6 linked regions of the Homo sapiens genome follow. Changing the gene in region 1 together with any one later gene gives a genetic interaction. Each region holds a gene or a part of one and is shown in the gene's direction. Other genes may lie near its edges. The genes, in order: CUL4A, SLC39A3, MAN2A1, ARL5A, MTF2 and DEPDC5.

Region 1 (5,565 bases):
TGTGGAGGTCGCTGTGTGACTGTGGAGGTTGCTGTGTGACTATGGAGGTCGCTATGTGACTATGGAGGTCGCTGTGTGACTATGGAGGTCTCATCCATGTGGCTGTGGAGGTCTCTGTGACCATGGAGGTCACGTCGCATGTGGCCGTGGAGGTCGCTGTGTGACTATGGAGGTCACGTCCCATGTGGCTGTGGAGGTCGCTGTGTGACCATGGAGGTTACTGTGTGCCTATGGAGGTCGCTATGTGACTATGGAGGTTGTTGTGTGACTATGGAGGTCTCGTCCATGTGGCTGTGGAGGTCTCTTTGTGACTATGGAGGTCACGTCCCATGTGGCCGTGGAGGTCTCTGCGTGACTGTGGAGGTCACGTCCCGTGTGGCTGTGGAGATCTCTGTGTGACTATGGAGGTTTCATCCATGTGGCTCTGAAGGTCTCTGTGTGACTATGGAGGTCGCGTCCCATGTGGCTGTGGAGGTCGCTGTGTGGCTATGGAGGTCGCGTCCCGTGTGGCTGTAGAGGTCGCTGTGTGACTATGGAGGTCTCGTCTGTGTGGCTGTGGAGGTCGCTGTGTGACTATGGAGGTCGCGTCCCATGTGGCTGTGGAGGTCGCTGTGTGACTATGGAGGTCTCGTCCGTGTGGCTGTGGAGGTCGCGTGTGTGACTATGGAGGTCTCGTCCATGTGGCTGTGGCGGTCTCTGTGTGACTATGGAGGTCTCGTCTGTGTGGCTGTGGAGGTCTTTGGGTGACTATGGTGGTCACGTCCCATGGTCCCATGTGGCTGTGGAGGTCGTGTGTGACTATGGAGGTCTCGTCCACGTGGCTGTGGAGGTCTTTGTGTGACTATGGAGGTCACGTCCCATGTGGCTGTGGAGGTCGCTGTGTGACTATGGAGGTCTCATCTGTGTGGCTGTGGAGGTCTTTGTGTGACTATGGAGGTCACGTCCCATGTGGCTGTGGAGGTCTCTGTGTGACTATGGAGGTCATGTCCCACAGCTCCATGGCCTTCCTTGTTCTGTCTTCCACATCTGAGAGCAGGGATTGCCCTTATCCGCAGTGAGCATTTTGTTTAAGTAGCAGTGAGTTCACTCCAGGCAATGCTTTGACACTATAAATAGACGTGTATTTGACATTCACACACGTGTCTGTTGAGCTAATACAGACAATCATTTGATGAACCTGCTAGTTAGGAAGTAGCTGTGATGTGAGAAGAGACAGTGCTGGCTGTAGATATACACCAAATTTCCTCACTTGGCTGTTGATACAAGGAAAGCATCTTGATACTAATAGGAGTAGAATGCAAATGATACTTCTCTACCTCCGATCATTGGATTACATTCCTTTTCTCTGGGGTGAATCTTTAAAATGCTAATGGCCTGAGTGCACCAACATGAAGCACACAGTACCATCTGATTAGTTGCTTTATGCATCCAGAGAGGGTATTTCTAAATCTCAAAGTATGATTGAGTGTCAAAAATCCATTTGGGGGAGGGGCAACTCCTGTGTTGTGCTGCTTCTATAACAGCACAAAAAAGTCTTCCAGTATGTTCCTGCCAGCAAGGAGTTGGCAGGGCGGGGAGAAACAAAGGCTGTCGCCTTTCCAGTGATGAGTGCCTGTAATATGAAGCCGGGAGTCCTGACTCAGCACCTACAGCAAACCTGGGTTACCCAGGGCTTGCCACTTGTTTTGAGAGGTTCTTAAATTCTTAATTTTAAAAACAAAGTAAATTGCAGTATGACTCATATGAATAGTAAATGTGCACCAAATAGGACACATAGGAGGCAGAGTGGGTTATAAAATATTTAGTCATTTGCCACAACCAGGAAAAGATGGTTTTAAGGATATTGGTTCTTGGTCTAGGAATTAAAACATCCAGAAAATGGTCCTAAGTTACTGTTGATTTTTGCTGAAGAAAATACATTTTCTTCATGTGTTATATAAAAAACTTACTTTGTAATAATTATGTTTGTGGGATTCACTAATGTTTAACTACTGGAGCAAAACCTTTGTCGTAAAGTTCTCTTGGTTGTTTGAGGAGACAAAAGGATGGCAGATCTTTGACCAAATTATGAAGATATGGAATTCAAAGGGATGGAATTGAAGAGTTTGAGAAAGGAGTTAAAGTAAATACAGAATGTGGGTAGGAATTCCGTTTCTATAGTAAGACAAAATGTAGGGGGAAAGTTTGTATTTCTTTGTTATTATGCTGATAATAAGCTTGCTAGAAAACAGGATTATAATTAAAAACAGGATTATAATTATTCCACATCCTCTTTTGATCTTTGTAAATATGCATGTATTTTATATGGTAGTAATCACTGTATGTATTTAACTTTGGTTAATATGTAGCAGCTCTCCGATATTTAGTATTGGAATTATTAATACTTGTGTAAGTATTAGTAAAATGAATAGCTTTATAACTTTAATTTACCTTTTTTCCTAGGGGTATATTGTATCCTAATTAAATTCAGATTATTTATCTAAAGTGTTTTTATTCTGTATATCCCCACATTTTTCGAACCCCACATTGGTTCAAAACTTGTTAGAAAAACCATATTTCTGTTTATAATATTTCATATTGGAATTGAATGAGTTTAAGTTTTTGTACCTAAGATTGGAAAGGAAATTTTATTAGAACTGGTAAGAATGTACAAGCATTGTTTCTTTGAGGTGAGTAAAAATATTGTGAGAAAAAATTTTCTGCTTCAAAAAATGGTGTCAGCTGGGCACGGTGGCTCATGCCTGTAATCCCAGCACTGTGGGAGGCCGAGGCGGACAAATCACCTGAGGTCAGGCGTTTGAGACCGGCCTGGCCAACATGGCGAAACCCCTCCTCTACTGAAAATACAAAAATTAACCTGTGCGTGGTGGCAGGTGCCTATAATCCCAGCTACTCGGGAGGCTGAGGCAGGAGAATCGCTTGAACCCGGGAGGTGGAGGTTGCAGTGAGCCAAGATCCTGCCTTTGCACTCCAGCCTGGGTGACAGAGCAAGACTCCAACTCAAAAAAAAAAGATTTCTTCTTGTATTAGGGGTGTTCACAGAATAAAAAAGAAAGTTTATTAATTAAACAAACTGAAGTGAATTACACATCTAGCCTGCAGAAAAATAAATAGGAAACAATACAGTCTGGCCTGTGTCACCCAGAAAAAGCTCAGTTTGGATTGAATCACTGCCCTGGGGAGTGTGAGGGGAAGGCCCAGCCTGTTGTTCTCCTTCCTGATGGGAAGGTGGTCACTGAGGGAAAAGATTTTCTTGGTTCTCTAGCCCTGATTTCACTTTGTAATCATCAAGGTGAACTTAAACACAAACACACTCCAGTGACCCCCATCTCAGACTGAGGAATCGGAGCACCCGGAAACAGGCCTGTGAGGATCAAACCTGTTGAGAAGTCCCAAGTGACTGGGCACCATAGATGCTCAGGAGTGGTGCAGGCCAGCTGCCTGGGACCCGAGGTCCAGCAGGTGCAATGTGCCCACATTAACTGTTGTTACCTCTACCCCCATGCCAACTATGACTGGACTGCAGTGTTCCAACGAGAAGTGCCCTAAACTTAGCCATAATAAGTAATTTATTTGTAGATTCCTGAAGTACTGGGGTAGGGTGTGGGGTGCCTTTTTCTTATGATTACAGCTATGTTAACAATAGGGTTTTTTTATGAACCAATCTGTTGTTCATACTGAAGAATTGATGTAGCCCTTTTGTTTGCAGGCTGTGGAAAATCTCTGTTCTCACAAAGTCTCCCCAATGCTCTACAAGCAACTGCGTCAGGCCTGTGAAGACCACGTCCAGGCACAGATCCTTCCGTTTAGAGAATATCCTTTTTTTGGTTCATAAAGTTTCTATTCATTATCTAAGTCTTTTAAAACTGAACATTATTATGATAAAGAGCTAATGAGTATCCTTAATATTAAAACAACAGCTTTTAAAGTTCTCTTTTATTTGATAGGTTTGTAAGCGAAATTTACCATTTAAATTATTTTGCTGATTTGAATTAAAGGGAAACCGTGTTCATTTATTGGGTATGGTTGAAGTATTTAGGAAATGTTCTGAAAAATGTCTTCAAGTTTGAGTATCCTTTATTCTAATAAACACCATCTGCATTGGCTTTCTGTGATAGGCAACAAAGTCCCATCGACTTGGCGACTTATGGAGACACCCACTTATCAGCGCACAGTTGTGTCTGTCAGGAGGCCAGGCAGGATTCAGTGGATTCTATGCTCAGTCTCACGGGCAGAGTCAAGGTGTCAGCCAGGTTGGGGCCTCACCTGAGGTCTTTGCTAGCACGGGCAGGCAGTTGGCGGAAGCCAGTTCCTGTGGTAGTGGGACTGAGGGCCCTGCCTTCTGTCCCGTGTTGCTTGGTGTCACTCTCAGCTCCACATGCACAGGTCCTTGCCTCTCCTCTCACAGCACGACTCTTTTCTGCTTCTAGACCAGCAGGAGAATCTGCCTGTCTGACCTGCTGAGATAGGGCCTTATATGATGTAACCCGTAACCCAGTCAAGGAATGATGACCTTCGTATTCACAGCCTCGTTCACAGTTGCGTGTGAGGCATCCTCCACGTGGGGACAGGGCAGGAGCATCTCAGAATTCTGCTGCCACACCAGCTGTGACTCAGACGTCTACAGGGGAGTCTCTGGGCTCCTTGGCATCCTATAGAAAATCCTTTAATCTGGACTCAATCTCATTCCCCAGCCTCCTCCCAGTACTGTAGCTGTCCATGTGTCTCATTGGGTAGGAATTAGAAAGTAGAGTTTATAATTGCAGAAAATCTACTTGTGGCTGTACTTTTCTAGGCCTCCGTTTCTTCATGTGTAAAATTAGGTGGTTTGTGTTTGCTTATTTCTAAGTGTTCTTCTAGTTCAAGGAAACTTCTGCTCCCCCATCTCCCTGATCTTGGGAAACTAAACCATTCTGAGTTCATTGGAAGGGTCCTCAGGGAATCTGCAGCAGTTGGTGCTGCTGAAGTTGAAGCACGTGACAGGGAAGCTGAAATGCAGGGTGAGAGGTCTCTGTTTAGACAATCTCCACAGCACCCCGCACAGATGTGAGTGAAGTCGGTTCCAGCTCTGTTGTGCTGGCTTCTGTAAATACGCCTCTGCAGTGTTTTCCAGCAAAGCCCTTTCCTAAAGATCATGAGGTCGTTCAAGAGATCAGTGACCGCACACCACCTTTTGGAACCTGGCCAAAGTGCACCTTATCTCAGGAGGCGCCTGTGAGGGCGCACAGAAGCAGGCCCCGCCCCAGTGCCACGGCTCAGCAATGCGCTTCCAGGAACCTACGTTCCAGATGTTTCCATCCAAAAAGCGGCCTGACTCCTAGGCTTGGGGGAAGTCTTTAGCAGATGCCCAAGCCTTCTCCCAAAGACTTAGGCGTTTATGAGAGTCAGTAGGCGGTGATTGTTCCTACTCTAGTTGCTGTCCCAATTTACTTGAAAACGACTATCTGATTACCTGATCAAATGAATCTTTTGCCAGTTACTCCTACTCTGTGGGTTGACTAATGTGCCATCAGTTCACTCACTGCACAAGCACTTGCTTTCTACCTACTGCACTGGCACCGCAAA
Region 2 (4,562 bases), on another chromosome or scaffold:
GTCATCTCTGACATCTCCTGCATCGCAGAGGCCACTGCCAGCCCCCCTTTTCCCCCATGGTCATGGTGTCACCCCCGTCACCCTCTGACTGCAGGCCTGGGCGACTGCGGGGAGCTTGCTCTTCCCTCCCCCTCATCACAGTGGCCTTCTCATGGCACCCAAACCTTTCCCGCCGTTCTCCTGTCCTCGGGCTGGTCAGGCGGATGAGGTCCCTACTCCCGAGCCCCCAGCCTCACCCACTGCAGGGCCAGGCTCTCAGTCACCCCTGGAAAATGGTGCCTGGTTCACAGCTCCCGTGCATCTGCCTCATCTCTCCTGATCAACGTCTGTCTCTTGGGAGTAGCTAGAGTTCCTCATGAGCTTGTCCTCAAGCGAGGCATGCATGAGGCCTCCAGCCGGTGGTCAGTGAGGGAGTTAAGTGGCTTCTCCGTGGAAACACAGCCTTCTGCTGCAGCAGAGGCTCACCCAGCGTGAACTGCCCCCAGGGAACACTGGGCGATGCCTGGGGACATTGTGGTTGTCACGATGGGGGGTGCTCCTGGCCTGGAGTGGGTGGAGGCCAGAGACACTGCTCAGCAGCACCCTGCAGTGCCCAGGACGGCCCCGTCCCAGAGAACAATCCAGCCCCGAATGTCAGCACCTTCCCCCTACCCGAGTTGTGAAAATAAAAAATGTTTCCAGACATTGCCAGGTGTCCACACGGGCAGAATCGCCCTGGTTGAGAACCACTGTGTGCGCGTGCTTGTGTGTGCACCTGCGTGTGCGCGTGTGTGTGCGTGCGTGTGTGCACATATGCGTGTGTGTGTGTGTGTGTGCACGTGCGCAGGTTGTAATGAAGTCTCCGCTGGGAAGGAAGCAGGGAAGCAGGCATTGTTGAGTGTCGATTGTGTTGTGATTTTCCTCCACTTTGGTCTCGAGGTCTCTCTGGAGGGTGGCTGTGAACTCTGGCCCTGCCGTGACGAGGCTCCAGGGAGCTGTTGTGGGCGTTTACAGCCTGCCTTTCATGAGACATTTCATCCTGGCGCATAGCCTAATGCCTGCGTGTCCGCCCCGTGAGCAGCTGTCCCTCCCATAGGAGTGTGTACCTCTTGCAGACGCCCTGCGGCTCCCGTCTGACCCACGTCTAGTTTCTCCCCACCAAAGTCTCCCCTCGCTAGGAGAGCCCTGACCAGGAGGAGAGTCGGGCCCAGGCATGTCGGTCAGGGAAGCAGAGAGGAGGCCCCGCGGCAGAACACGCAAGGCCAGTGCAGCTCTTTATGTGTTTATTTTGAGCCGGAGTCTCCCTCTGTCGCCCAGGCTGGAGTGCAGTGGCACGATCTCGTCTCACTGCAACCTCTGCCTCCTGGGTTCAAGCCATTCTCCTGCCTCAGCCTCCTGAGTAGCTGGGATTACAGGTGCTCGCCACCATGCCCAGCTAATTTTTGTATTTTTAGTAGAAACATGTTTCCCCATATTGGCCAGGCTGGTCTCGAACTCCTGGGCTCAAGCAATCCGCCAGCCTCAGTCTCCCAAAATGCTGGGGTCACAGGCATGAGCCACCGCGCTTGGCTGGTGGTGGTGGTGTTAATTCATCACAGGCGAGCCCTTCCTCTCCCACTTGTTTTAACCTCTGTGTGAATCGGGGATTTCTGGACTTTGCTTTGAACGGTGACATCTGGCCAGCCCTGTCGCCGCCACCCCTGAGCGTGGGTCTCTCTCTCTCTCTCGGGTGTCCCCGGCTGCAGCTCCAGAAGGTCCTGAGCCTCGGCCACATCAGCACCGACTACCCGCTGGCCGAAACCATCCTCCTGCTGGGCTTCTTCATGACCGTCTTCCTGGAGCAGCTGATCCTGACCTTCCGCAAGGAGAAGCCGTCCTTCATCGACCTGGAGACCTTCAACGCCGGATCGGACGTGGGCAGCGACTCGGAGTATGAGAGCCCCTTCATGGGGGGCGCGCGGGGCCACGCGCTGTACGTGGAGCCCCACGGCCACGGCCCCAGCCTGAGCGTGCAGGGCCTCTCGCGCGCCAGCCCCGTGCGCCTGCTCAGCCTGGCCTTCGCGCTGTCGGCCCACTCGGTCTTTGAGGGCCTGGCCCTGGGCCTGCAGGAGGAGGGGGAGAAAGTGGTGAGCCTGTTCGTGGGGGTGGCCGTCCACGAGACACTGGTGGCCGTGGCCCTGGGCATCAGCATGGCCCGGAGTGCCATGCCCCTGCGGGACGCGGCCAAGCTGGCGGTCACCGTAAGCGCCATGATCCCCCTGGGCATCGGCCTGGGCCTGGGCATTGAGAGCGCCCAGGGCGTGCCGGGCAGCGTGGCGTCCGTGCTGCTGCAGGGCCTGGCGGGCGGCACCTTCCTCTTCATCACCTTCCTGGAGATCCTGGCCAAGGAGCTGGAGGAGAAGAGTGACCGTCTGCTCAAGGTCCTCTTCCTGGTGCTGGGCTACACCGTCCTGGCCGGGATGGTCTTCCTCAAGTGGTGAGCGGCCTCGCCATTGTCCCTGCCGCCGGAGCCCGCCGGGAGCCCCGGGCCGGACACAGGCCGCGTCCCCCGGCCGCGCGTCCCCCAAGAGCGAGCACTGTGGCCCTGGGCCACCACCTGTGCACAAGGGGCCTCCCGGGACCAGGCTGTGCCCCCGATCCTACACCCTGAGCCTCAGAGCACTGCTACTTTTTAAAATACTTCTTTCTCTTAAAAGTCTTTACCAAAGCTGTGTGGCCATGTCAACCTCGGGCCGTGGGGTGTGGCAACCCACGGGCGGGAGGGCCAGGACCTGGGTCCCGGTGAGATCGGTCAGGACCCTCCTCTCCCTGCCGCACACCCCCAGCCTGTGAATAAGGACGGGAGCATTTGGCTGCTGTGGCCAGAGTGAGGGCCGCGCCGCCTGTGCCTCAGGAGCCAGCTGGGGGCCCTGAGGCCCCAACGTCTACCCTACTCTGTTGCCAGGATCTCGCCGCCCGAGCCCCGAGTGTCTTGAGGCTTATTAGAGGTTGGAGTCACTGCGATGGGACAGCCGGGCTCCGTCCCTCCTGCCACACAAGGCTGTACCCCCTGTGAGTGGGCCATGTACCCTCAGGAGTGCCCTCTCCTTTTCCCTTTGCTGGGTGGCTCCTGGAGCGGGGACCCCTGGGCCAGGACCCCCGGGCCAGGTGAGTGTCACAGTTTCCTGAGACTCACGAGCAGGGCCAGGAGGCAGCTTAAAGATCAGTCCTCAGCTCTGCTTACACACACCGGGGTCTCCAGAGGAAGATGGACCCCACTAGCGGTGGGGCAGGGGCCCCGCGGTGCGATCCCTCCCGTGGACACAGGGACGCTGCTCCCGAGAGGGCAGGAGCACGGGGGACGAGCAGCCGGGCGTGGGCTGGGGCAGCCCTGGGCTCCTGGCTCTGTGGCAACCTCCGGAAGGCCTGAGCCGTCGTCCCGGCAACCCTGCCGGGTCTGGGGAGGTGAGAGCTGGGGAGGGACGCCTTTCCTCGGGGATTTTGCTCTGCCTGGCTCGAAGCCGCTGTGGCGCCGCGGAAGGGAGCCGGGCATGCCCGCCTGGGCTGGGTTTTTCCTTGATCTGACCTGGAGCCCCGGACCCCATCTCTGGGCCTTGGCGTCTTCCAGCCCCATCAGGGCTGTGAGGGCCTCTGGCTGTCCCCACCTCCCACCTCGTCACTCATCTTTGAGTGCCAGGCCCCAGGTACCCTTCTCCCATCCCGTGCCCTGCCTCGCCACCACGCCTCCCTACACCTACCCACAAGGCTGACTGGGGGGGGCTGCACGGAGAGGTGCCCATCTGGCCTGTGGGCTTGGGCCTGGCGGGGCCTCCTATCCATCAGTCCATCAATCTAGTCAGATGGGGAGCTCCAGGGCCAGCCAGTGACTGCTCTGTGGGGTGTCCCGGCCGGTGGCCCTGCTGCAGCCAGCTCAGCTCCCAGGTGCCAGTCACAGGAAGGGACGACCTCGAGAGGGCGGTGGCTGCCTGGAGCATTGCCATGGGGGTCCCAGGAGGCCGGAGTAGTCACACAGCCCCTGTAAGTAACTTCCACTCCAGGGGGTCGGTACGTAACCCGGGGTTCCACCTCTGCTCCTGAGACCCCCCCCCAACTTCCACTCCAGGGGGTTGGTACGTAACCCGGGGTTCAGCCTCTGCTCCTGAGACCCCCCAACTTCCACTCCAGGGGGTCTGTAAGTACCCTGGGGTTCAGCCTCTGCTCCTGAGACCCCCCGCCAACTTCCACTTCAGGGGGTCTGTAAGTAACCTGGGGTTCAGCCTCTGCTCCTGAGACCCCCCCCAACTTCCACTCCAGGAGGTCGGTACGTAACCCAGGGTTCCACCTCTGCTCCTGAGACCCCCCAACTTCCACTCCAGGGGGTCTGTAAGTAACCTGGGGTTCAGCCCCTGCTCCTGAGACCCCCCAACTTCCACTTTAGGGGGTCTATAAGTAACCCGGGGTTCAGCCTCTGCTCCTGAGACCCCCCAACTTCCACTCCAGGAGGTCCTTACCCCACTGCTGTTGGAAGCTTGGGGCCTGTTCTGGGAACCTGTGTCTGAACCTCTTACCGGGGATCCATCTCTGAACCCTGTGCAGCCTGGCCC
Region 3 (5,565 bases), on another chromosome or scaffold:
CCCAAGCCATTCTCCCACCTCAGCCTTCTGAGTAGCTGGGACTACAGGTGTGTATGCCACTGTGCCCAGCCAGTTTTAAAATTTTTATTTTGTGGAGACGGGGTCTTACTATGTTGACCAACTGGTTTCAAATTCTTGGCCTTAAGCTATTCTCCTGCCTCAGCCTTCCAAAGTGCTGGGATTATAGGTGTGATTCACTGCTCCCAGTTGCCTTTTGTGTTTTTTTTTTTTAACTTACTGTAATACACATACAGAAATGTGCTTACATACTTTACATCAGTAGTACTTAAGAGTCCAGCATAGTAGATGTTATTAATGAAAGTTGACTCATGGCAATACATATAACTAGGACTTTGATTCCCCAGTTTTTTTCTTGCTTTCATAAATCTGTAAATCTTACTTAAGAATGACATATAAGGAAAATATGATCTCCTTCCCCTTCCTTGAGTGCAGTCTATTTATAAACAATAGCACTTGGTGCTGGGGTTTGTTCACGTTTGTATGAGGGAGATTGTCTTATTTTCTGGGATATAATGCGGAGATCTGTGCTTTTTGGGAAGTGATGGAACGTTGATAGTGCATCCAGCATTTAGGAATGCAAGAACAAACATTAGAGCCTTTTGAGGATGGTGTCCTCTAACTCCTCTTCAGTCCAACAGCCCTGTGGGTCTCTTCCTGATCAGCATTTTTCACTAAGACCCAAACTTATTTCCTGTAAACCAACTGGGCCAGATACTCATGACTGTCTGTGGTCTGAAGATAGTAGTTTATGTTTTGTTTTTTGTTTTTTTTAAATTGAATTGGGTGTGTTGTTCCCAGATGAACACTGTTATCAGGGCCTAAACAAATATTTTTGTCAGGGAGATGTCACAATTGTATTATTGGAAGGGGATTTTCTCTCTTAGCTTTTAATTTGCATTAAGAGGTGTCTGGGCTGTGGGCAAAATAGTGGCTAAAATGACCACTTTTATTTGTTTTTGAGTCAGCTATTGCTTTTTGTGATAACTGAAAACTTTAGTCTTTTTTGAAGGACTGAAGTGTTGAGAGTTTCCTGGAATGAGTGGTTCACTAGCTGTTGCTGATCACCTGGTTTATTCTTAGCTTTTTTTGCATTCAGGAGTCTTAGTTTTCCCTTGTTCTCCAACTTCTGTAATCTTTAAGAAAATGAAAGGATATTTAGCAGCTCTGATGACCTGTATTTGCTGGATTGTAAAGGCCTTATTGCATTTTTTATCCCTTCTGTCTTGGTAAAAGTTCCTGATAGCAGCAGCTTTTATAAAAGTTTGAGCAGAACTAAGGCAAGGAGGAAGAACTCTAAAATAGTGATTTTTGCTTCTCAGTTGTTATTAGTAGGTTAATCAGGAGAGGAAGTAGGACATTTTAACTAAAATGGGTTTCTGTTTCAGTTATCAAGCCAAGCTGCTATTTTTAAGTTTGAAACCATTTTTAAATTCAGACAGGTTTGAGGATTAATTGTACTGAAATGGAGCTCACATCTAGTGCTTTAGTGAGTATAGCTAAATGTGCCTATAATAGGGAGGAAGTAAATCATTTGGTTTGATGAACTCTGTCACTTGAGGTCATATCATAGCTTTTCTGAAAGAGTGCCCTGTTTAAGGTAATTATATTTTATGCAGACAGGTGGATAGTAGGTATCTAGTATATATCTTTTTTTTTTTTGAGACGGAGTCTCACTATGTTGGCAGACTGGAGTGCAGTGGTGCAATCTCAGCTCACTGCAATCTCCACCTCCCGGGTTCAAGCGATTCTCCTGCCTCAGCCTCCCGAGTAGCTGGGATTACAGGCACAAGCCACCATGCCCAGCTAATTTTTGTATTTTTAGTAGAGACGGGGTTTCACCATGTTGGCCAGGATGGTCTCGATCTCCTGATCTCGTGATCTGCCCGCCTTGACCTCCCAACATGTTGGGATTACAGGCGTGAGCCTCTGCGCCTGGTTGGTATCTCTTAAATATCTTAATGTTAAATTTCTAAATCTAACATACTGTTTTCTAAAGAAGAGAAAGTACTTTAGTTTAAAACTGGACATACTCTACCATTTGCTGCCTCTATCCAGGCTTTGTAACCTCTTTGCTGTTGACATTTTGGGCCAGAGAATTCTTTCGTGTTAAGGGCTGTCCTGTGCGTTGTAGGGTGTCTAGCAGCATCCTTGCTGTCTACCCGATATCTGCCAACATCACTGTTCTCTCTCTGTACCCCTAGTTGTAGGAACCAACAATGTCTCCAGACACTGCTCTCAATATCCTCTGGGAGTGGGAATCATCCCTGTTGAAACTGTGTTGGCTGTGGCCTCTTCTTTATACCCAGTACATGTCGTTAGCACTTCTGTGTTTTAGGAAGGATTGATCAAAAGGCCGAAGCTCAAAAAGCCAATTAGCATTTTTTGATGGGTGAACTCTATTCTTTCTCAGGATGCCTGAAATTCACTTACACATTTAGGATTCTAGATTGTAGTATGTTACAAAAAATTTCAAGGATAGATTATGTTCATAGGTAAGTTGAAGGAAAAAATGGAAGATTCTTATAATGGAACGTAAAAAAATTCTTTTCCAATTGGACGTGTGTATTCTGAGAAAAACATTAGGGTCAGGTCATTGTAAATAGATCATCTTTTACTTTCTTCCAGCTGAATTACAGGTTGGCACTTATCCAGATTTATTCCTCTTAGCATAGGAAGATAAGATATATTGATTAATAAGGTAGTATAAAAATTGTCTGCAAAAATGTTTTGAAATGTCTGCAGTTTTCTCAGGCAGACTGTTTACTTTTCAGTGTATTGTTTTTATTTCTGTTAATTTTGATGATTCTGGTTACAACATTTTAAATATCTTCTTGAGATGAGAAAAAGCAGGGAAAGAAACTGGAAAATAAGGAGAGTGGATAGAGACTTTCCTCCTGATCATTTCATTTTGTCCTCTAAATAGCATTTTTTACGAAAGTGGGGTGGAGGTGGGAGGTTAGGGAAAGAATGAAGTTCTTGACAAATAATCTTCCTTCTTTTGTCTCCAAGGCCTCTGGTTTTGAACTCTGCTGAGTCAGCTAACTATGAGTGAAATCTGTCTGCCACCTGTCTTTATAGGGCCATGTGCTAAGAATGGTTTTTACATTTTTAAGTGGTTTAATAATGTTTCATGACATAGCCATGGTCATTCATCTACCAATTGTCTCTGACCACTTTCACACAACAGTGGCATAGTTTAGTAGTTAAGACAGAAACTGGCTCACAAAACCTAAAATATTTACTCTCTGGCCCTTTTCAGAGTTTGCCAATCCCTAGTTTAAACTATATTTCTCTATTGTTAATATTGGAGGCAAATAGTATTGTTAGATCTGTTAAAGTAGATGTGAGTTAATTAAAGACAAACAAAATTCTCGTAAATTGGTTATTAGATAAGCATTGGTCAAACTTTGTGTTTTTAGAGAGTGGTTTAAAACTTGTGTTATCTACATGTTTCATAGATTTCCAGGTATCCTTGGGGAACTTTGATGCTAGAGCATCGACATGCTTGATGAGTTTGTTTCTCTTCTTTCACCTGAAGGTTTTGCACTGTAGGACTGCTCTGGGAAGGAAGGTTCTGGGCCATGAACTAGGCAAAATTGATCCATAGCTTCAAGACTGAAAACCATGACTTTATGACTTTTTGGATCTGCTGTAATTCACAGATGGGCTTAATTCTGAGCCCAGTCTGATTGCTTGGGTTAGTTAGTCCTGAGAAGGGAGAGCTCAGGTATAGGTATCTTCTTCATAAGCTGTAAATAGAAGATGGAACTCAGCCGGTCTCTGGGATCCTGAGCGTTGCTCAGCTTGGAGGCAGGGTACTTTCAGGTTGTCAGCAGAGGTACTGGCCTGCTCTTCTGCTTATCAAAGAGCAGTTCTTGCTAATTTTCATCATTTTCTTCACTTTTAAAGATTATATGTCACTTTCTTTGCTGTGTTGCTGTGACACAGGCTAACACCCCATTTGTGTCCTCACAGATTTTAGTATCATCTTTAAATTGCAGTATACTGAGTCCGAACAAAATGGGGGTAATGCGTCTCATCGAGTAGTATTAAGGTTAGTGTTAAGTAGAGTTTTTTAAGTATTTGTTTTTTTGCATTTAAAAATGTATGCATTTGTGTATTTTTCACATGTAAATGGATTTACCACTGGCCTCCTTTGCAGGTGGTGCCTTTGGAAGTCCAGAGAAATTAAATGCTTTTTCCAAGAGCAGAGAAGACTCTAAATTTGACCCTGTCCTATGTTCTTGCTGGTGCACTTCATTGGCTTCAGTGAGGAGTCCGGAGAGCTGGGACTTTACCAATGATTTTTTTTTTCTTTTAAACATGTAAAAGGTATAAATGCACATAGAAATAATTCAAATGACATAGAAAGGTACACATTGACAATAGAATCCCTCTCCCTTTTTTCCCCATCTTTAGTCCACTCTTCTCTGAGTCCCACTTCTGACCATTTCTTTATGTTCCATGTGTGGTTCCTTCTTTAAATATATGCATATACCTCTGTTTTGATTTTTGTTTCAATTTTGAGCTATTGTTTCCCTTTATAAGAGATGAAGAATTTAACTCAATACCCCCTACTCTTCCCAGTTTTTAAAAAAGTTTTGTATTCAATTTCTGTTTGATATACATTAACAGCTTTCAATGATGTAATTGCATTTGTTTTCTTGATTCATCAACTTTAGGCCTAAAGTGACTCCCCACTCTGTCAGTCAAGGAATTTGGTACTTCTCAGCCTTCTCCCACTCAATTTCTCTTCCTTCTCATTTCTCACCCTCCCTCAGCCATCAGTTTTTTTACATCAACATACCTTATATCATCTACATTTCATTCTGTGACTGAATGTGTTATGTACTCTGACTATAGGTTGGTTACAAAAATTGAAAACCAGTAAACAAGGATACGGAATTTTAGGTAGGAGGAATAAGTTCAAGAGATCTATTGTACAACATACTGATTATAATTAATAATAAAGCATGTAGTTTTGAAAATTGCAAAGAGTAGATTTTAAGTGTTCTCACCACAAAAAAGAATAAATAAGTGATGTAATGCATATGTTAATTAGCTTGATTTAGCATTCTACAATGTATGCATTTTTCAAAATGATATACTTGATAAATATATACAATTTTTATTTGTCAGTTAGAGCTCGTTTGGAGGTTCCAGCAGGGGAGTGCAGCTCCTTGTATACCCTTGACCGAAGACCCGTCCTCCATCAGGGATGGTCATCCTCTACGACTGAGCATGCAGCTTCAGGAGGGGCTCACATAGAGTGGTGAGGGAGGAAGGGGACACCCGCCTAGCCAGCCAGATCAGCCGAATCAACCCTGGCGATCAATGGGGTGACAGATTTCGCAGCCAGATCGCCCTCACATCCTATTTGTCAGTTAAAGAAATAAAAAATGTTAAAAAAAAGAAAACCAGTACATAGTGTTTTCAATTTTATGATATTAAATACCATGCAGTATATGTCAGGTAGTTTGGCTTCATAAGAAGGAGGGATAATCTTGATAATTACACCTGTGCCACTTGAAGGAAATATTCTGA
Region 4 (5,565 bases), on another chromosome or scaffold:
GATCTATTCTAGTTTTAACATCCATCATTTTGTATTATTTTTAGCAAAGCTAGTGTTTCATCTGCTGTGAGGTTTAGCAAGACTGTGAATTGAGCTCTAGTGCTGCCAGAAAAAGAGTTATCACCACTTTCTATTTTGAGTCAATGATAAAATTATTTGTTTCTGTAAGTTAAGAATAAATGAGAACTTTGCCAACAGCTCCTTGGAGTAGTAAATAATAAGGGTGTGTGCTCTGGTATCACTACAAATTGCTAATAGTAGTGTTTTTATAACCTGTATTTTGTGGTAATTTTTGACGGGACATTTATGGCAGTTTGGCGGAAATTAATAGAGAAATTAATGAAGTTAAGTTCTAGAAAATTAGATATGAATATTGTGAAAGTGTGAATAAATTATTTATTTTCTGCTAAACAGTGTGGCTGTCTTATCAATAGGGTCACTTTTCCGAATATCCACCATTTAATCTAATGCCAGATATTTGTTGGGTTTTGTTTTTGTTTTTGTTTTTTTGAGATGGAGTCTTGCTCTGTCACCAGGCTGGAGTGCAGTGGTGTGATCTTGGCCCACTGCAACCTGTGCCTCCTGGGTTCAAGCGATTCTCCTGCCTCAGCCTCCCGAGTGGCTGGACTACAGGTGCGTGCCACCACACCCAGCTAATTTTTGTATTTTTTGTAGAGATGGGGTTTCACCACGTTGGCCAGAATGGTCACCATCTCTTGACTTCGTGATCCACCCGCCTTGGGCTCCCAAAGTGCTGGGATTACAGGCCTGAGCCATGGTGCCCAGCAGGGTTGTTTTTTTTTTTTTCTGTATAGGACATATATAAGTTAGATATGTGTTGGATGCTCTTGTTTTACCTTCAGTGGATTCAGAATGCAATCTTACTTTCTTTTCATAGAAACTCTTGGAAAGTATGTTTCGGGAGATTACAGAATTTGCCATCTGATGAAACTTAAACTATGCAGTATCTCCTGTTTCTGAAACCCCTCGAGAACAGCTTTTTCAGTTAAAGCTCAGATTGAGTGCACAGTGAAAGCTATTTGTATACCGCTCGAACTAGAAAAACCAGAGGTCACATTTAGTTGATACTGAGATTCAGTAGAGTACAAACTTTATCCTAGATGCTGTCATTTAAATCATTTTATTTTATTTTATTTTATGTTTTAACAATCTTTTGAAGTAGTTATTTCCCCTGAAAAGGGAAAACTGAGGCTTAAGTGGAATGATTTTTTTTCCCCAGGCCATGCAACTGGTATATGCCAGAGCCAGGCAAGTTAAAACCCTGAAGGAATCTCTTAAAGAAGAGATTGACATCATTTTTCCCTCCCTCCTCCTCCCCCCATTAACTTTTTCAGTTGCTAATCTCTAAGTTGTCTTTAGAACTTCGAAAAGTTGCCATTAGTAACTTTTTTTTATAGAAGAGCTTGTGATCAGTGGTTTACTTGTTCTCAATAAACAAATATTTTAACACCTATTTAGTCCAGGAAGTGTTCTACATGGTGGGATAAGGGAACAAAACAGACAAATTCCACTGCCTTTATGGAGCTTTCATGTAGTGTTGGGAGACAGGAAATTAACTCACTTTGTCTCTACAAGTAAAATAATAGTGGTTAACACTTGTGCAAGGTTCACACAGGTTGTTTGATTTAATATTCACTTAGTTGATTTACTCTTTACAACAACCCTACAAGGTAGATATTATTCCCCTTATTTTACAGGGGTACGGAAACAGGTAACTTGCTTTAAGCACTATAGGTAAAAGTGATAGACCTGGATTTTAACCACGATTACGTAGTGCCGGAGTTATTTCTCCTACGCACACACACCTGGATTTTAACAAGATTATCTAGTGCCAGAGTTAGTTCTACACACACATGCACGCACGCACATTTGCACACAACTTCGTGTAAGAAGGACTTTGTATAAGAAGGACTCAGATAAAAAGAACTGACTGATGTGAACTATAAAAGAAGTTGTGGAATTTCCTCATTAATAGCCTTGTATTGCTCTCTTGGTTGGTTGCTAGAAAAGGAATTATAAGTATGAATGGGTGCAGGAGAAGCTGCCTGTGCTTCAGGAACCTGATGCTGAGGAAGCCACCTCTGTTTCTGGCTTATTATTGTTGTTATTATTATTATTATTATTATTATTAGGGAGTTTAAATGTGTAGAGAAGAGTACATATGGAAGCTGAGTAGCCAAGGGGTAGACTGTGTCTTAGCTTCTAATACAGATGCTCCTCAATTTGTGATAGTTGATAATTTGTGATAGATAGATAATTGAAAATACAGTAAGTAAAAAATGAGTTTAATATGCCAGACTTACTGAAAACCATGGCTTTAGCCTAGCTTGCTTTATACGTGCTCAGAACATTTATGTTAGTTTACAGGTTGGCAAAATCTAACCCAAAGCCTATTTTATAATAAAGGTTGAATATCTCGTGTAATTTATTGAATACTGTACTGAAAGTGAAAAACAGAATCTTTGCATGGGTACTCGAAGTATGGTTTCTACTGAATGTGTGTTGCTTTTACAACATCACAAGTCAGAGACCATTTGTAAACCCTTTTTGCATGCTCTGTGGAAGTGGAGCTAGGTCCTTTAAACGTTTTTCTTTTGCCACTGGGCAAAATGTTAAGTTTTGTCAGTAGGCTGCACTGGAGAGGCATTGTAGGAGGAAAGGGTGTTTGTACTTAGTTATAGTGTGCTTTCTTGACGGGCTCTGCTTGTAGCATGAACACCGTCTCCAAGGCCTGGCTCTTGTACTGCATAGTGGTCAGCAGCAGCCAACAGCTTCCCCTAGTACCCGTCTTAGTTGGTTTCATAATGGAAGGTCTCCAGTGAAATACCTCTCAATAAACAGTTTTCCTCAGCACCGAAGAGGGAGGATTTTTGGGCAGGTTCCACTGGCACCTCACCACAGCTACTTCTCTGCCATTCAGTGAGCCACTATCTGTGCCCTCCAACGAGATCTGCATCTTAAGTCTGGAGGGAGGGGGAGGACCTTTATCTCAACCCTAGGGATAGTGAGTGCTTCTTAAATTTGACATTCCCATAATCTTTTAGCCAATCTCTCATTACTCCAGTCCCCTGTAATATTTTTTTGATGTTGAACTTTCCAAGTTCAAATTATTGTGTGATTTCTGCCTCCTGATTGGATCTCTAATTTTGCCATGTGTAATCATTGCTTTTTTTTTTCAGCAACCTCATAGTGCAAAAGAAAATTTGGTTATTCCCCTGAAACTTAATTTACCATTACTGTAATAGCAAGTTTATTTTCAAACTTTCTTTTTATTGTTAAGACTTTTAAGTTTTAAAAATTGAACTTTTAATACAAAACGACTTAAGCAGATATCTCTCTCCTAACCTTTATATTTTCCAGATCTGATTTATTTATTCATGAAAAATATTAAGCTCATGCTTTATTCCAGGAGCTGTCCTATGGACTAAGAGAACTATAGTGAATATGACAAATGGAATTTTTTGCTCTGAGAGACATAGAATTAATAGGGCTTAGTGATAGTTCAGATATGAGGTAAAAATGATGAATCAAGAGGACTCTCCATTTATTTGCCCTGGTGTTTTTGTGTTTTCTGATGTTGTATGATTCACAGAGATAGTAATTCTCTACAATAACAATTATTATTATGCTTAATTTATTGACTGATGAGTTGGGGGAATATATATTAACTTTTAAAAACTGGCAATGAATGGAACTGGTAGACTGCCTGTGTCAAAAGGAAATGAAGGAAAAGGGAAACAAGAAGCAATTTTCATGACAAAACAGTAAAGTATTGATTGGTATGTTAAAGCCTAATTGGTAACTCACAGTTCCATCAAAGCATTAGAACAGTGCAGTTGTTGTGGCTTATTTGAGTAAATACAGGAATGCTGTGACATAGTCTAAAAGAAAAATCATACTAAGCAGTAAACTTCTGATGATTCTTGTGCATCAAAGAGTTGGAATGGCTGAAAGTTTTATTGCATTTGTCCACAATAACATTCTTGTAGTAGGCATATTGGGATTCTATGAAGTCTTTATTTCGAAGTGCATTATAGCACTTTTTGGCTACAAATTTACATTTTGTATAGATGCTTTTCCATCTTGCTAATGAAAGGAACAGGCTGTGGTGGTGAGAGTAAGGATGTTCAGAGGAAATTGATCTACTATTAAAAACTTTGTGACTAATCTGACCCTATTATTGAGATGACACGTTTGTCTTTGAGCCCATTGCACAGTTTGGTCTTAATTTTATAGTTCTCATTGTGACCCACATGCTATGTCTTAGATTTAGGAAGCTATTAAAAATGGTCATTGGTGGCCGGGACGCAGTGGCTCATGCCTGTAATCCCAGCACTTTGGGAGGCCAAGGCAGATGGATCACCTGAGGTCAGGAGTTCAAGACCAGCTTGGCCAACATGGCAAAACCCCTATCTCTACTAAAAATACAAAAATTAGGCCAGGCACAGTAAACTTCTGATGATTCACGTGCAGGTGGTTCACACCTGTAATCCCAGCACTTTGGCAGGCCGAGGCAGGTGGATCATGAGGTCAGGAGTTCAAGACCAGCCTGGCCAATATGGTGAAATCCTGTCTCTACTAAAAATACAAAAATTAGCTGGGCGTGGTGGTGCGCACCTGTAGTTCCAGCTACTCGGGAGGCTGAGGCAGGAGAATCCCTTGAACCTGGGAGGCAGAGGTTGCAGTGAGCCGAGATCATGCCATTGCACTCCAGCCTGGGCGACAGGGCGAGACTCCATCTCTAAATAAATAAATATAAATAAATTAAAAAATTAGCTGGGCATACGGCGAGACTCCGTCTCAAAAAAAAAAAAAAAAAAGAAAAAAAAAAAAAGAAAGCCGGGCATGGTAGTGCCTGCCTGTAGTCCCAGCTGCTTGAGAGGCTGAGGCAGGAGGAGAATCGTTTGAACCTGGGAGGTAGAGGTTTCATTGAGCCAAGCTCACACCACTGCACTCTAGCCTGGGCAACAGCGAGACTGCGTCTCAAAAAAGTCATTGGTGCTTTATTGTGAAAATACAAAAAAACTCAAATAGAGCTACGTCTTGGGAGGAAGCAACTAGAACTTTGTAATGAATGTAGTTTGTAGGTGTTTGGGTGGAGTAAGGAGGTAAAGATCCTCTGGATCATGGATTCTTCATTGGAATGGCCCTCCAGAGATCTCAGACCACATGACTACATGTGGTTTTTTTGGATATTTTCCAGGTTCTGCTTATGTTTGATTGGAGTTTCTTTCCTCCTTTTTGTTTTTGAAGTATTTTAACCATTTGGTAAGAATATGATATGTTCAAATATATTAGTTTGGTTTCCCTTGATTGACTTTAGAAATCTGCTTAGGTCTTAAGAGTTTGGGGGCATGGTTGCATATTTATGCATTTGTAAGTATATAGGAATTCATTGAATTTGTAAAATAGGTAGGCAGAAGAGTAAGATTGTAGTGTGGAGAATGGCATGAGCAAAGTTAAATGATTGGAAAGTTTATGACATGTTCTAGAGACTGAGTAGAGCAGCTTTTCTAAGTTTTAGTACGTAGGTCAAGAAGAGTT
Region 5 (5,565 bases), on another chromosome or scaffold:
CCAGTATAACCATCCTAAATTGGAATGTAAAAGTTTCCCTGTGGATATTTCTTATATGTTAGAGTAGTGCTATCTAGTAGAAATTTCTCCAGTGATGGCAGTGTTCTATATCTGCTGTATCCAGTACAGTAGCCACTAGCTGCATGTGGGTATTGAACTCTAGAAATGTAACTAGTGAGACTAAGAAGTGAATTTATAATTTAATTCATTAAAACTAAAATTTAAATGGCCATATGTAGCAGTGCTACTGTATTGGACAGCACAGTAGTAGGGGTTATTGCATCCATGTATTGAGGAATTGTTACATTCATTAACCATGGAAACCACAGGAATCCAAGGATGAGGAAATGCCTGAGAACTGAGGAAGTTCAGATTCTTTTTGTACATTTAAGATGAAGTATTCATTTTTACCACATACCATGTCTTCTGTCATATTTCTGTTTTCATATAACATTGCAATAGAATAATGAAAGATAGTGACCTCTCTAGTCTTTTTAAAATATAAGATTCTGCTTCTGTGTCAAAAAACAACAAAAAATGGATATTAGGAACGTTTTGTTGTTTAAAAAAATTACTTTGTTTTTACACTTTGGTAGAAAAAACTTAAGGAATATTTCAAACATAATACAAAGTGAGCAGAATAGAATAGTGAGCTTTTATGTAACCATTCTTTTTTTTTTTTTTTTCTGTAAAAAGAGACAAGGTCTTGCTCTGTCACCCAGGCTGGAGTGAAGTGGTGCTATCATAACTTGCTGCTGCCTCAGACTCTTGGGCGGAAGTGATCCTCCTGCCTTAGCCTGCCGAGTAGTTAGGACTACAGGTGCACACCACCACACCTGGCTAATTTTTAAATTTTTAATTTTTTTTGTGGAGACGGGATCTTACTGTGTTGCCCAGGCTGGTCATGAACTTTTGGCCTCAAGCAGTCCTCCTGCTGTGGCCTCCTAAAGTGTTGGGATTGAGCCACTGTGCCCAGCCCATTGTTTTTATTATTTTTTAAAGGTTTATTTTTAGGTGAAGTTTACATATATTGAAATGCACAAATCTTAACTGTACAGTTGTTAATAAGTTTTATTGAGATATAATTTATATACTATAGTTATATGTACATAATTCACATGCATTCTTTGAAGGTGTACAGTTCAGTGATTTTTTTTAGTATACTCACAAAGTTGTGCAGCCATCACCATACCTAATTTCAGAATATTTTCATCATCCCAAAAAGAAAAGAAAATCTTAATCCATTAACAGTCAGTCCCCTTCACCTATCCACTATCCTCTGGCAACCACTAATCTACCTTCTGTGTCTATAAATTTGCCTGTTCTGGACATTTCATGTAAATGGAGTAGTACAATATGTGGCCTTTTATGTCTGGCTTCCTTCACTTAGCATGACTATATTAGTCCATTCTTGTACTGCTATGAAGAAATAACTGAGACTGGGTAATTTATAAAGAAAATAATTTTGATCGGCTTACGGTTCCACAGGCCATACAGGAAGCATGGCTGGGGAGGCCTCAGGAAACTTCCTGTTGAAGTGGCCCCCTTGAAGTGGCCACAGCAGGAGGATTAGAGATGGGGGCGGCTCCACATGCTTTTAAACAACCAGAGAACTCAGTATCATGAGAACAGCAGGGGGGAAAATCTGCCTGCATGATCTAGTCATTTCCCACCAGGGGCCTCCTCCAATGTTGGGGGTTACAATTTGACGGAATATTTGGGCGGGCACACAAAATCCAAACTATATCGTTAATGTTTTCATGGAACAGCCATGTTGTAGCATTTATAGTCACTTCATATCTTTTTAGGGTCAAATAATATTTCATTATATGAATATACCTTTTTTTGTTTGTCTAGTCATCAGTTGATGGACATTTGGGTTGTTCCCACATTTTGACTATTGTAAGTAATGCTGCAGTGATCATTCATGTATAGGGTTTGGGTGAACATGTTTTCATTTCTCTTGGGTACACATATCTAGGAGTGAAATTACTGGGTCAGATGATAACTCGGATTAGTGTTTTGAGGAACTGCCAAACTGTTTTTCAAAGAGGCTGTGCCATTCTACAAGCTCACTAGCGATTATCTGGTGAGTGATTATCTCACCAGTTTATCCACATCCTCACTGATACTTATTATTGTCTATCTTTTGATTATAACCATCCTAGGGTTTGAATTGGTATTTCATTGTGGTTTTGATTTGCATTTCACTTATGGCTAATTATATTGAGGATCTTTCCACATACTTGTTGGCCATTTGTATACCTTCTTTGGAGAACTGTCTATTTAAGTCTTTTGCTCATTTAAAAAATGGGACTGTCTTTTTATTCTTGGATACAAGCCTGTTATCAGATATGATTTGCAGACTTTTCTTCCCCCATCCTGTGCATTATCTTTTCACTTTCCTGATGGTGTCCTTTTAAGCACAAATATTCTTAATTTTGATAAAGTTCAATTTATTCCTTTTTTTTTTGCTTATGCTTTTGATGCCGTATCTAAAGAGCTTTATAGTTTTAGCTTTTACATTTAGGTCCGTCATCTATTTTGAGTCAATTTTTTATATATGGTGTGAGGTAGGGGTCCAACTTCAGTGTTTTGCATGTGGATACCAGTTTTCTAGTACCATTTGTTAAAAAAAACTAATTCTTTCCTCATTGACTTGTGTTTGACAATCTTGTCAAAAATAAATTAACCATACATGTAAAAGTTTGTTCTTGGATCCCAGTTTTATTCCATTGATTTATGTGTCTGTACTTAGGACTGTACCATAATATTTTAATTACCATTACTTCATAGTAAGTTTTGAAATTGGGACGTTGTGAGTCCTCAAGTTTTTTTCTTTTTAAAAAACAATTTGGCTATTCTGGGTTCCTTTCACTTTTCCATGTAAATTTTAGGATCAATCTGTGAGTCTGTGCAAAAAAACGCAGCTGGGATTTTGGTAGGTATTGTATTGAATCTATAGATTGATTTGGGAAGACTTGCCATTTTAATATTATTAACATCTATGAACATGGGATGCCTTTCCAGTTATATAGATCTTATTTAATTTCTTTCTCTGATATTATGTAGTTTTCATTGTACAATTCTCGAACTTCTTCTGTTAAATTTATTCCTGAGCCAGGCACGGTGGTCCCAGCTACTCAGGAGGCTGAGGCAGGAGGATTGGGTAGGAGGATTGCTTGAGCTTAGGAGTTTGAGACTTCAGTGAACTATGAGAGCTATGATGTGCCACTGCACTCCAGCCTGGGTGACAGAGCAAGGCCCTGTCTTTAAAAATGTAAGTATTAAAAGAAATACTTTGAACATATAGAAACAAAGTAAACCATTTTCCTTGATAAGATAAAGCATCACTTTCTCCTATCCTCATTTAATTTAAAGTTCTTATCAGTACTTGAGCCCCTCTGTTGATTCTCAGTTCTGAGGATTTTTTGATAGTAGTTAAAGAATTCTCCCATAATCAGGGAGATAGAAGGGTAGTTTGTGAAGTGCTTATCTAGTACTAAAAATACTTTTAAAATTTCAAAGCATTGTCATTATAGTATAGTTATGGATCCTAATTACATTACCTTTTTTCTTTTCTTTCTTTCTTTTTTTTTTTTTGAAACGGAGTCCAGGCTGGAGTGCAGTGGCACCATCTCGGCTCAGTGCAAGCTCCGCCTCCCAGGTTCATGTCATTCTCCTGCCTCAGCCTCATGAATAGCTGGGACTACAGATGCCCACCACCATGCCCGGCTAATTTTTTTGTATTTTTTAGTAGAGACGGGGTTTCACCATGTTGGCCAGGATGGTCTCGATCTCCTGACCTCATGATGCGCCCTTCGTGGCTTCCCAAAGTGCTGGGATTACAGGCGTGAGCCACTGCACCCGGCCTTTTTTTTTTTTTTTTTTTCTTCATTAAAAGAGACAGGGTCTCTCTGTTGCCCAGGCTGGAGTGCAGTGGCGTGATCATAGCTCACTGTACCCTCAAACTCCCGGGCTCAAGTGATCCTTCCACCTCAGCCTCCTGAGTAGCTAGGACTACAAGTGCATGCCACCACACCTGGCTAATTTTTAAAATATTCTGTAGAAACGGGGTCTTGGTATGTTGCCCATGCTATTCTTGAACTCCTGGCCTCAAACAATCCTCCTGCCTTGGCCTCCTTAGGTGCTGGGATTACAGGCATGCCACTTGGGCCCAGCCAGGGCCAACTTTTAGCATCCATAGGTTCTATGGGTCACACTGCAGAACTTGAGTATCTGTGGATTTTGGTATCCTCAGGAGGTTCTGTGACCAGTGCCTTGTGGATACCAAGGGACAACTAAATAGCATATACATAAACCAGTAACACAGTCGTTTGTTATCAGTATTATGTATTGTACATAATGAGTATATGTGCAAGACTTTATGCTACTGGCAGTGCAGTAGGTTTGTTTTATACCAACATCACTGCAAACACATTGTAAAGCATTGCATTACAGTGGTTACAAAGTCACTGGGTAATATGAATTTTTCAGCTCCATTATAATCTTATGGGACCACTGCTGTATATGTAATCTGTCGTTGACCAAAGTTTTACTGTGTAGCACATGACTATGCTTAGAAGGAAGGATCAACTATGTAAATAATGAAGGAGGAGGCCGGGTGCATTGGCTCACGCCTGTAATCCTAGCACTTTGAGAGGCTGAGGCGGGCGGATCGCTTGAGGCCAGGAGTTTGAGACCAGCTGGGCCAACATAGTGAAACCCTGTCTCTACTAAAAATACAAAAAATTTAGCCAGGTGTGGTGGCACATGTCTGTAATCTCAGCTACTCAGGAGGCTGAGGTTCACTTGAACCCAGGAGGCGGGGGCTGCAGTGAGCTGAGATTGCACCACTGCACTCCATCCTGGGTGACAGAGCGAGACTGTCTCAAAAAAAAAAAAAAAAAAAAGATGAGGAAGAAGGGCAATTTTGGTAGTAGGTACAATATGTATGAATGCCTTGGGTGGAAAAGATCTTGGTTTGTGAATAATTGATAGGCAGCCCCGGGTGAATCTTGAGATGCAAAGACATATTCCTGTGGGAGAAGAAAACTAATATATCATATTTGACTTGTAGCTTTTTCAGCCTAGTAATTATGTTAGTTTCCCAGTTTTGTTGGTGTTTGAAGAACTATTTATAAAGTCCTTTTGTATTTATCTATGTGATAAATACAGAGCTTTGAAAATGTATACTACAGGCAGCTGTCTTTGAACTTTTTCTTGTTGTTTCAAAATTGGGCAGACAGCTACAGGTTGAATATCCCTTATTTGAAATGCTTGGGACCAGAAGGGTTTTAGGATTTTAGGCTTATTTGCATATACAAATGAGATGTCTTGGGGATGAGACCCAAGTTTAAACACAAAATTCATTTATGTTTCATACACACGTTGTATGCTTAGTCTAAAGCTTATTTTTTCGTTCGGGACACTGAATAAACTGTGTTGTGCCACCTGCGTTTTGACTACAACCTGTTACGAGGTCAGATGTGGAATTTTTCATGTGTGGTTGATGCTTAGAAAGTTTCAGATTTTGAAGCATTTCAGATTTTGGACTTTCAGGTT
Region 6 (4,322 bases), on another chromosome or scaffold:
GTAAACCCCCGCCTTCCACACCTATTCCCCCCACCTTCCACACCTAAACCCCCCCACCTTCCACACCTAAATCCCCCTACCTTCCACACCTAACCCCCCCAACTTTCCACACCTAAACCCCCCACCTTCCACACCTAAACCCCCTCACCTTCCACACCTAAACTCCCCCACCTTCCTCACCTAAACCCTTCCACCTTCCACACCTACCCTCCCCCCATCTTCCACACCTACCCTCCCCCCACCTTCCACACCTAAACCCCCCCTTATACACGTAAACTCCCTCACCTTCCACACCTAAACCCCCCACCTTCCACACCTAAAGCCCCCCACCTTCCACAACTAAACCCCTCCACCTTCCACACCTAAGCCCCCCCACCTTCCACACCTAACCTCTCCCACCTTTCACACTTAAACCTCTCCCCTGTTCCACACCTGTCAGAATCTTCCTCCAGGGATTCCCAAATGTTTCCTCTCTGAATTCCTCTTTCCCTTTCTTTCAAAACACTCTGAATGTATTCCAGTGACTTGGGGGCCCTTGGAGGGCAGGGGTATGCTTTTTCCTATTTGTGTTTCCTTCTATAATGCCTAGCAAGGTGCCTGCCTAGAGTAGTTTCATATGTAGCTTTTGCATAGGGTGGAGCTTTAAGTGCAACTGTGGCTCTAAATGACACATCAGCCCACCCATAAGGTCCATCTCAGAAAGAGCTAAAAAAGTGTCCATCTTCCTCAGCCCCTAGGCTGTGACCTACAGCTCCTCCTTCATCTTCCTCAGCCCCTAGGCTGTGACCTACAGCTCCTCCTTCATCTTCCTCAGCCCCTAGGCTGTGACCTACCGCTCCTCCTTCATCTTCCTCAGCCCCTAGGCTGTGACCTACAGCTCCTCCTTCATCTTCCTTGGGGCAGGTGGAGATGATTATATCCCCTCCCCTGCCCTTACTGCGTTTCTGTCTTGCATTCTCCCTGAGTGGACAGTCAGGTGGCCAGGAACCATGTGGTTAAATTGCCTTTTTGTTCTTTCCTGGTGACCTAAGGAAGAAATGAGGTAAAAAAAAATTACTCTGGTAAAAAAAAATCAGGCTGATCCATGCTGAGGAAATCAGTAGCCTTAATTAGAAAGTAGAGAGAAAGCAGGCTGGGTGTGGTGGCTCACGCCTGTAATCCCAGCAGTTTGGGAGGCCGAAGCAGGCGGATCACCTGAGGTCAGCAGTTCAAGACCAGCCTGGCCAAAATGGTGAAACCCCGTCTCTACTAAAAATACAAAAATTAACTGGTCATGGTGGCGCGTGCCTGTAATCCTAGCTACTTGGGAGGCTGGAAGCACAAGAATTGCTTGAACCCGGGAGGTGGAGGTTGCGGTGAGCCAAGATTGTACCACTGCAGTCCAGCCTGGATGACAGAGCAAGAGTAGAGAGGATTTTGCAAAGGCAAAATCCAGAGCCAATCCTCATCATATAATCAGCCTGTAGACAGGGAGCTTACAGTGCATAGTAGCCTACCCATTTAGTTTGCATATTTGACTTCATGTATTCTTTGGTAAAAAATTATGGAATGCAGATTATGTAGAGGATACAACACAGCACCTCCCCAAGGAACTCAGTCCAGGAAAGAAGACAGGCATTTTCCCTTCTTTAGTTCTGCCTACATCACTGTCTCCATTATATAAACCCCTCAGACTTAGAGGGCAGGAGCCACATCTGTTACCACGTCCTTTACAGCTCTTAGCAGGTAGAACTGTAATAAATGTGCCTTATGGAAATAGAAAAACCAGGAATAGAACAAGCCATAGATGAAAAATGGCTCCTCCTGCCCATTTCCAGAGCACAGGGAAGCAGAGAGCCCCAGCTTGGCGTTCCTCTTTTTTTTTCTTTTTGAGATGGAGTCTCGCCCTGTCACCCAGGCTGGAGTGCAATGGCATGATCTTAGCTCACTGCAGCCTCCGCCTCCCGGATTCAAGTGATTCTCCTGGCTAATTCCAGAACAATCCTGGCTAATACAAAAATTAGCCAGGCATGGTGGCACATGCCTGTAATCCCAGCTACTCAGGAGACTGAGGCGGAGAATCACTTGAACCCAGGAGGCAGAGGTTGCAGTGAGCCGAGATCATGCCATTGCACTCCAGTCTGGGCAACAGTGCGAGATTCCCTCTCACCAAAAAAAAAGATAAGGACCTTCCCTGGAGGAATGGATAGCCTCGAGTATGCGGGTGGGTATGTGTGGCCTGTCAAGACATGAGGTAGATTCCAGTGAGAGGCCCAGGATGGGATGGGGGAGAACGCTCAGTGGGAAGGTCTGCTGGGATGGGTAGGGAACATGGTAGGAGGGACGGGCTGTCTGAGCAGAGATGAAGGCTGGATGAAGAGTGCAGCCGGTGGGAAGGCTTTCTTTCACTATGGTGGTAGTGACATGGTGGACCACGGAGATGACGGGCTGCTGGGTGTGAGGAGGTCTGGTAAGCCATGGTGTTGGAAGAGGTAGAGGTCAGAAAGTGGTGAGGGTGAGGACAAAAATAAGCAGCCTGCATGTGCAATCTGGAAAGAGATCTTTCCAGATCTCTGTGTCTCAGGCTGTCCGAGAGTCCTATCAGCTACATTCTCTTCCCTTGCCCCTTTAACTAAGGAGGCGCTGATTAGCATGTCTTCCTGTCCTTCCCTAGGTTTGGGTTTGTACAAGATAAATATTCTGCCTCTGCTTTTAACTTCCCTGCTGAGAACAAGCCTCAGTATATCCACGTTACAGGTGAGGAGCTACGGGCAGAGTTGGGCAGGTGGGTCCACATCCCTTTCCTTGCACCAAGCCTATGGCTGCAGAACCACCTCAGCAGGCTCCAGGAGCCCTCCTGGTGGCTGCCACACAGGCGCTCCCCTTTCTCTTCAGGAACAGTGTTTCTGCAGCTGCCCTACTCCAAGCGCAAGTTCTCAGGGCAGCAGCGGCGGCGGCGGAACTCCACCAGCTCCACCAACCAGAACATGTTCTGCGAGGAGCGGGTCGGCTACAACTGGGCCTACAACACCATGCTCACCAAAACATGGCGCTCCAGCGCCACAGGGGATGAAAAGTTTGCTGATCGGCTGCTGAAGGACTTCACGGACTTCTGCATCAACCGTGACAACCGGCTGGTCACGTTCTGGACAAGTTGCCTGGAGAAGATGCATGCCAGTGCCCCGTGAGGCCAGGCTGCACCTGTGCTGGGGGAAGGTGGGTGAGCCACTGCCCTCAAACCCGGGGCGGAGGATTCCAGGCAGGCTCTAGGAGTCAGGTGTCCGTTTGCTGCTATCAGTGAGTGGGGGCCATTGTTTTTTGTTTGTTTGTTTGTTTGTTTGTTTGTTTTTGGCCCCCACGACAAGTCTTCTACTCTAGAAGAAAGACTTTGGAAGCAGCTGCTGCTGCTGCCACCACTCCTGTCAGCAAGTGCTCAGAGCAGGTGGGAGGCACAGATTGTCCGTGGGAGGGCTCCAGTGTCTGGGAAGAGGGCAGGCGGCCCCCATGAATGTCCTCGGAAGGGGGTGGCTCCTGGTAGCATCCTTTTCCTTCACCATCTATGGGATATTAGGGGCAGAATCTGCCACTTCTTGCCCAGGAGTGTGCACAGATGTAAGATAATTTTGTGAAATAATGTACCATAGACTCTCACCAACTGTATATACCTGTACATATCAGAAGCAAATAAAGAGCTCCACGTGCATCATTTCTTTCCCCACCCAGTTCCCCACAGAAGCAGTCCCATCCTGGGCTGGGCAGTTGTGCCAGGTGGCCGGGGTCATGGCAGTCAATGAAGTGGTCACAGATGGTGAGAGGGCTTCAGAATTCACTGGCTTAGAGTCTGGCTGGGAGTTTATTGAGAGATTTCTTTCATAGGCCACTGGGCAGGAGCAAGGATGGTTCCAGTGAGGACAGTGAGCAGGCAGTATAACTTACAAGGTAACTGCAGGCTCATGCTGTCAGAATGAATCTTGCTAAATGGGTGAGCTCAGCTCTGGGACGCAGATATGATGGCATTCTGAAAAAAATCAAAGGAAACATTTTGTAGACTCTAACTTAGGTTTTTTTTGTTGTTGTTTTTTTTGTTGTTTTTTTTGACACAGTTTTCACTCTTGTTGCCCAGGCTGGAGTGCAATGGTGTGATCTCAGCTCACTACAACCTCTGCCTCCTGGGTTCAAGCGATTCTCCTGTCTCGGCCTCCCGAGTAGCTGGGATTACAGGCACCTGCCACCATACCAGGCTAATTTTTTGTATTTTAAGTAGAGATGGGGTTTCACCATGTTGGCCAGGCTGGTCTTGAACTCCTCACCTCAGGCGATCCACCCACCTCAGCCTCCCAAAG

The links.
Region 2: changes in CUL4A (region 1) and SLC39A3 together harm fitness more than expected from each alone (negative genetic interaction), as found in Homo sapiens cells (one large-scale study listed by BioGRID).
Region 3: changes in CUL4A (region 1) and MAN2A1 together harm fitness more than expected from each alone (negative genetic interaction), as found in Homo sapiens cells (one large-scale study listed by BioGRID).
Region 4: changes in CUL4A (region 1) and ARL5A together harm fitness more than expected from each alone (negative genetic interaction), as found in Homo sapiens cells (one large-scale study listed by BioGRID).
Region 5: changes in CUL4A (region 1) and MTF2 together harm fitness more than expected from each alone (negative genetic interaction), as found in Homo sapiens cells (one large-scale study listed by BioGRID).
Region 6: changes in CUL4A (region 1) and DEPDC5 together harm fitness more than expected from each alone (negative genetic interaction), as found in Homo sapiens cells (one large-scale study listed by BioGRID).

Annotation. Positions count from the first base shown.
Region 1 is NC_000013.11:113,215,236-113,220,800, forward strand, and holds part of CUL4A (cullin-4A), read left to right. Parts: intron 1-3,709; coding exon 3,710-3,813; intron 3,814-5,565. UniProt on the Homo sapiens protein: Core component of multiple cullin-RING-based E3 ubiquitin-protein ligase complexes which mediate the ubiquitination of target proteins. As a scaffold protein may contribute to catalysis through positioning of the substrate and the ubiquitin-conjugating enzyme.
Region 2 is NC_000019.10:2,730,648-2,735,209, reverse strand, and holds the end of SLC39A3 (zinc transporter ZIP3), read left to right. Parts: exon of another isoform or gene 1-684; intron 685-1,724; coding exon 1,725-2,459; 3' UTR 2,460-2,686; downstream 2,687-4,562. UniProt on the Homo sapiens protein: Transporter for the divalent cation Zn(2+). Mediates the influx of Zn(2+) into cells from extracellular space. Controls Zn(2+) accumulation into dentate gyrus granule cells in the hippocampus.
Region 3 is NC_000005.10:109,694,440-109,700,004, forward strand, and holds part of MAN2A1 (alpha-mannosidase 2), read left to right. Parts: intron 1-5,565. UniProt on the Homo sapiens protein: Catalyzes the first committed step in the biosynthesis of complex N-glycans. It controls conversion of high mannose to complex N-glycans; the final hydrolytic step in the N-glycan maturation pathway.
Region 4 is NC_000002.12:151,821,066-151,826,630, reverse strand, and holds part of ARL5A (ADP-ribosylation factor-like protein 5A), read left to right. Parts: intron 1-5,565. UniProt on the Homo sapiens protein: Lacks ADP-ribosylation enhancing activity.
Region 5 is NC_000001.11:93,081,604-93,087,168, forward strand, and holds part of MTF2 (metal-response element-binding transcription factor 2), read left to right. Parts: intron 1-5,565. UniProt on the Homo sapiens protein: Polycomb group (PcG) protein that specifically binds histone H3 trimethylated at 'Lys-36' (H3K36me3) and recruits the PRC2 complex, thus enhancing PRC2 H3K27me3 methylation activity.
Region 6 is NC_000022.11:31,903,331-31,907,652, forward strand, and holds part of DEPDC5 (GATOR1 complex protein DEPDC5), read left to right. Parts: intron 1-2,653; coding exon 2,654-2,736; intron 2,737-2,874; coding exon 2,875-3,167; 3' UTR 3,168-4,322. UniProt on the Homo sapiens protein: As a component of the GATOR1 complex functions as an inhibitor of the amino acid-sensing branch of the mTORC1 pathway.